2 separate regions of the Homo sapiens genome follow, and region 2 is linked to region 1. The links come from fine-mapping of genetic effects on gene expression. A gene starts in region 1. The other region holds a variant in brackets. All regions are shown on one strand. Distances are from middle to middle. Region 1 holds the start of CMTM8 (CKLF like MARVEL transmembrane domain containing 8). Region 2 overlaps CMTM8 (CKLF like MARVEL transmembrane domain containing 8).

What was found.
Region 2: its variant is fine-mapped to the expression of CMTM8 in whole blood (TOPMed, PIP above 0.99).

What each region holds. Positions count from the first base shown.
Region 1 is chr3:32,237,318-32,240,226 of GRCh38, forward strand. It overlaps CMTM8 (CKLF like MARVEL transmembrane domain containing 8), which reads left to right and starts at 1,363. Exons shown (of 4, transcript NM_178868.5): 1 at 1,363-1,802. The coding sequence starts at 1,656. RefSeq lists a silencer at 1,167-1,376.
Region 2 is chr3:32,279,800-32,282,708 of GRCh38, forward strand. The region is part of intron 1 of CMTM8 (CKLF like MARVEL transmembrane domain containing 8); the gene reads left to right. Among named protein-coding and RNA genes, the nearest start is that of CMTM8, 43 kb to the left of the region's middle. The variant G/C (reference allele first, on the strand shown) is at 1,272.

The DNA of each region.
Region 1 (2,909 bases):
TCTCCAAATCTACATCTTTGCCATGCTTTTGAAGCCTTAACTTTTACTCCTGGAGGTCTTCCTGGCTAGGCCCTAGACTTAAAAGACACTAATTCCTTGTTTTATTTTATTAGATTGTCGTTTTTGCTTTCTTCTCAGCACACTTGATAAGACACTGTGAAGAAAATGTCCCTTCTGATCTCGTTTTTAACCTGTCTTGGAACAGATCAGCAGAAATGCCTTCACTGTGAATCAAAGATACCCTCGATTTATAGCCAAAGATTATTTCCTTTTCTTTTGGTGGCTTCCAGATAAAATGTTTCTTGCTACCCTTTCACAAAATAGAAGGAGGGACCAAGCGGAAGATAATCTTTTTGTTCAGAGGTCCATCTGTCAAAGCCTGCATTTTAGAGATGGCATTACTGAGGTCCAAAAACTAGAGCCACTCGCTCTGGGTCATACAGCCGATAAACGCACGCAGCCGAGCTCAGTTCTTCCCTGACCCTGTTACAAACTGCCTCACTAAATGAGGACCCCCATCCCCTTCCCATGCCAGGAAAGCACAGCTCATTTGTCCTAAAGTTAACATTACACAAATCACACCCTTCAAGCCTTCTTGAAACATTTTTTTTCCCCGAGGGTGACGGGACGGTTACGCTGATTCATCCTGGCCAGGGACCCCAAACATCTCCCCTCCTCCGGCCCAGGCGCCGTCACCCAGGCTCCACCGGTCCGCGGGACAGAGCCGCGGAGAGCGCCTGGAAGCGTCGCGCCCTCAAAGCCAAGCGATTAAGTTGGTTCCTCAAATTGTTCCCGACAGGAGGGGCAGGAAATAACACCGGGCTCTGGCGGCGGCCGCAGCAGGAGGGGGAGAAGAGCGGGCCGTCTCCCGGGCAGTGCTGGCGGCCTCTCATCGATCTCGGGTCTAAGGTCCGGCCGGGTCATCATTCCTGCCATTTCCACAGCATTCGAGGTACCACATCACCCCCTGCCTCGGTCGTCGCTCAGTCATTCCCTCCGCGCCGAGTCCTGGAGCGGCGGAGTCCCTGGAGGCCTGGGTTTCCTTAAGGGGCCCCAATGCCCGCAGCCCCCGACCCGCCCAGGTGGAAGGAAACAGGCTGCGGGCCTGGGCCAGGCGGGGCCTGACAGAAGTAAAGGCCGGGAGGGGGAGCGGAAGACGGCCAGAAGGACCCCTGCGCCCTCTCCTCCGCGCCGCCCGCCAGGCTGCCAACCCAGCCACCCTGGGTGCGACGCGGCGCCTTCTCCGCCGCTGGGAGTCGGGCAACAGGTGAAGAGGGCGGGCGTCCGCGGCGCCTCCGCGGGGCGGTCCCTCTCCTGCCCGCCTCCCGCCCGCCCCTCTCCCCGCCCCCTCCCCTCCTCCGGGCCTCCACCGCCTTCCCCGGCTGCCCGGCAGCCTCCCCTCGCTCGCTCTCCTCTTCCTCTAGGGCCCCAGCGCAGCTCGGGAGCCCGCGCACCGAGGCGCTAGGGGCACCGCGCACTAGAGGGACACCCGCCGCGCCTGGACAGCCCCCGGCGGGCGCCCCCCTCGCACCTCCTGCCCCGCGCGGGCCGCGCTCCCCTCCCCCGCGCCTGTGTCCCCAGGGCGCAGGGCCGCGCGTCCAGCCCCAGACCCGCCGGGGTCCCTGGGGACGCGCCAGCCCGGCAGTGGCTCGACGATGGAGGAGCCGCAGCGCGCCCGCTCGCACACAGTCACCACCACCGCCAGCTCCTTCGCAGAGAACTTCTCCACCAGCAGCAGCAGCTTCGCCTACGACCGGGAGTTCCTCCGCACCCTGCCCGGCTTCCTCATCGTGGCCGAGATCGTGAGTGCCGACGGGCCGGGGGTGGCGGGGGGCTCAGCTGGACCCCGGCGCGTGCTTCCGCCGTGCTTCTCGGGATGGAGCCTGCTCAGATCTTCCCGCGGGCTTTAGGGAACCGTTTTTGCTCAGCCTCGCCTTCTTCCCAAAGTGAAAGACTCTAAACAAGGTCCAGGAAACTCGGGCTGTCCTGGGAAGAAAGGGTTGTGATCCTCAGGATGTCTTGCTGTGGGAGAAATTCAGCTTGTTGGGTCCTCTCGGTGGCGGCGGCAGATCCTGGGAGCAGGAAGCTTGGCTTAGTGGCTATTGAGTTTGTGTTGAGTGTCAGAGACACCTGGTGCCTTTCTCACCTGATCTCCACGTGGATGGCCTCCTCCCTGAAAATAAAGCTTCCTAAGATCAGGGGAAGAGGAAAGGGCTTCTTTCTTTTCCTAATTATCTCCCTGGTAGTAACATTGAGGTGAGTCAGGAAAATTTTACTGAATAAAATCTGAGTGCCATAACCTATTTTAGGACCAAAGAGGTCTTTTGCATGGTGCTGTGCACATCCTGGTTTAGGCTCAGAACATTCCTGGGAAGGAGGCAGGGCATGGGCGTTCTTCTCTTCATTGGAGGGCATAGAGGCTGAAAACTCACGTGATCTTCCCAGAAGTCCCAGCCAGTCCTTCATAGCTGAGAAAGGACTGGAGTCCTGTCAGCAGTTAGAGGTGGTCACTGTTTGAGTCTTCTTCGTGTACCAGGATCTTGTCAAGCCCTTTAGATGTCCTCATACCCTCGTGTAATCCAACGACCACCCTCCCCTGTGAAGGCCTAGAGAGGGGACGTAAATCACACCGGTGGATGGTGAAGCATGGATTCAAACCCAGGCCTGCCTTTCTGCAGGGCCGTGCTCATAACTGCAAGCAGTTGAGACAGCTTCCAGCTGCCCCAGCAGTGCCCCTCTGTCATCTCTCACAGACTTTTGTTAAATATTTGGGAATTGAAAATGAGCCTATGTGGGAGTTAGAGAATGGGCACACCATCATGGTGCAGAAGTGACTGAAGACCTGGGCGGTTCCTTTGAGAAACCTGAAGTAAATCTTGTGTACCTCAAGTAGCTTGCTTGCTCCCCCA
Region 2 (2,909 bases), 42 kb after region 1:
GTAAAAGTGTTCCTATTTCTCCACATCCTCTCCAGCACCTGTTGCTTCCTGACTTTTTAATGATTGCCATTCTAACTGGTGTGAGATGATATCTCATAGTGGTTTTGATTTGCATTTCTCTGATGGCCAGTGATGATGAGCATTTTTTCATGTGTTTTTTGGCTGCATAAATGTCTTCTTTTGAGAAGTGTCTGTTATTAATAATGGGAGACTTTAACACCCCACTGTCAATATAATTAGTGATTTTTTTAAGAAACCATAAATCTATTGCTTCATAGTGGTAACCAAGCACTTCGTAGTGGCCACCAATCAGGAGGAAGTCCCTGATTGACCTAGCTCAGGTCACATGGCCATTCTCAGTCCAGTCAATGTGGCCAGGCATAAGTGAGGGGGGAGAATAGGGTCTGGAAGCAGGGAACCTAAGGCTGATTCACGCTGATTTCCTAGAATGGAATTAAAAGGAAAACCCCAACTTTCCATGCCCAAGTAACAAAAGGATCATAAGCTACTTCCTTTGCACCCCCACCCACTTTTTCTTCGTGGCAGATGGAAAATGGAAAGTACTCTGATTGGTCCCCTTCTGCAACCAATCAGACTGGTCGTGGGCCTAGTCTTTATTTGCATAGGGGTATAACTTTGTAACTTCACTTCAGCCTTTGATTGGTTGCCTTCTGCAATCAATCAGACTGGTCATGGGCCACTTCTTTATTTACATAGGCTGTAACCAAGTAACCAGTGAGAAACCTCTAGAAGGTATTTAAACCCCAGAAAATTCCATAACCAGCATGCTTGAGCCCACTCCCATACTGTGGAGTGTGCTTTCGTTTCAAAAATCTGTAGTTTCATTGCTTCATTTGTGTGTTTTGTCCAATTCTTTGCTCAAAGTGCCAAGAACCTGGATGACTCACAGTCAAGACCCGTCACTGGTAACATAAGTAGTCTGGCCATACCTGGGTCATCTGTCTACTTCTGGTACCTGGGGTGGAGTCGACCCTACTCAAATTACATTGAAGGAAAGGTAGGTCTCCAACACGAGAGAAAATAGGCAAAAAAAAAAAAAAAAAAAAAAAAGTGACAATTATATTTGGAACTACCTTTGTCTCATTTTATAAATAAAGCAGCTGAGGGTGAGAGAGATTATCGTGACCTAAGGTCACAACCAGGAGGCGGCAGAAGTGGGATTCACACCAGATCTTCCTGACTCTAAATGGTAGACTGTTAATTCAGTGCACCCAACTATTTCTGAAGGGAGTTATCCTGGAACTCCCCAA[G/C]CCCCATCTCTGCATGGGGACAATCCTGAGGTTTGATGCTCCTGTGTATGACTATTAGTATGTAGAGATACCTTGTAGGCCCACCATGGCAGGATTTTGTGTAGGAGCACATGTTTAGCTGTAAGCTCTGTTTTCCCTGGCACCTCTCTAGTGGCTACACTGTACCTGAAAATATTTCTCTTACCCATCAAAAGAACTCTTTACATTAATAAAAGTTGGAAGAGTCAGGCAGCTGGATTCGTCTCTTCTCTTGGAACGTTTTGATTAATTTAGCACATGCATTCTCATCAAGGGGTGGTGTTGCTTGCAAGGGAGCAAAAACTGGTTCTTGGGGGTAGGGAGGGAAATCTTACCTTTTTTAAATGAATAAAGTACATATATACATGTAGTATCTAAATAGACAGTTTATCTGAGATGTTAAAATTTCCTGGAGATAATATGCTGTGATGAATGCCATCTTGAAAACTGTAACATATCTTCCCTCCAGAAGATATGTCCCTCATTCTTCAACAGTTGTCACCTTTTTTCTCTGCTCCACCTTGCAGCAAAACTTCTTGAATGAGTTGTCTTTATTTCCTAATTCCTCTCATCCCACCTGCTCCTGACTGAACCCTCTCCAATCAGCCTTGTCACTAGTCTACCCAAACAGCTCTTACCAAGGGCACCAGTGACGTCTGTTTTGCCAAGCCAAATGGTCAACTTTCAGTGCTTATCATACTGAGCCTGAAGGCCACATTGACACAGTTGACCCCTCCCCTCAATCCTTTAAATATCTTATTTTCTTGGCTTCAAAGGTCACTGTCCTAATTTTTTTTTCTTATCTCACTGGATGTGTACCTCATCTTCTTTCCTGGTGCCTCCTTATCTCCCCAACTGTAAATACAAGAGTGCCAGGGCTCAGGCCTTAGAACATTCCTCTTTTCCGTCTACACTCATTCCCTCAGAATCATGGCTTTCAACTCTCTCTATAGGTCCTCATTTCTAGCCCCAGCCTAGACTTCTCCCCTGGATCCCAGATTTGTATCTGCCCACTCACCATCTCTTCTGATATGTCTCATAGGCAACTCAGGCTAAGTATCAGTTTTGGGTTAATACAGAGAACAGAGAAACATATTAAAAGAACCCATGAGGACACAGTCAGCAAAATCTAGATTGTGTGTACGGGACAAATGACCCAGTTTTTTCAAAAAATAAATTTTAAAGAAAAAGGAATAGAGGAGATGCCTATAGATTAAAAGAGATTTATGAGATAAAAGTCAGTTGCAATATATGTACCATATTTGGATATTGATCCAAGCAACCATAAAATAATTATGAGATGATCAGGGTTATTTGAATATTGACTGGATATTGGATATTATCATTAATTATTTTTAGCTATGAGAATGGTGATTTGGCGATATTAGAAAAAAATTAAAAAAATATATACCCAGAATGTTATCAATTCTTACCACCTGCAGTATTATCACCCTCAGCCAAACTAACATCCTCTCTTGTATTATTTTTATATTGCCTCTTAGCTGATTTCCCTGCCTATAACCGACCCCCTACACCGGTCTGCTCTCAGCACAACAGCCAGAGATATCCTGGTAAGATGTGTCATGATATTCCACTTCCCATTGCATTTGGAGTGAGAGA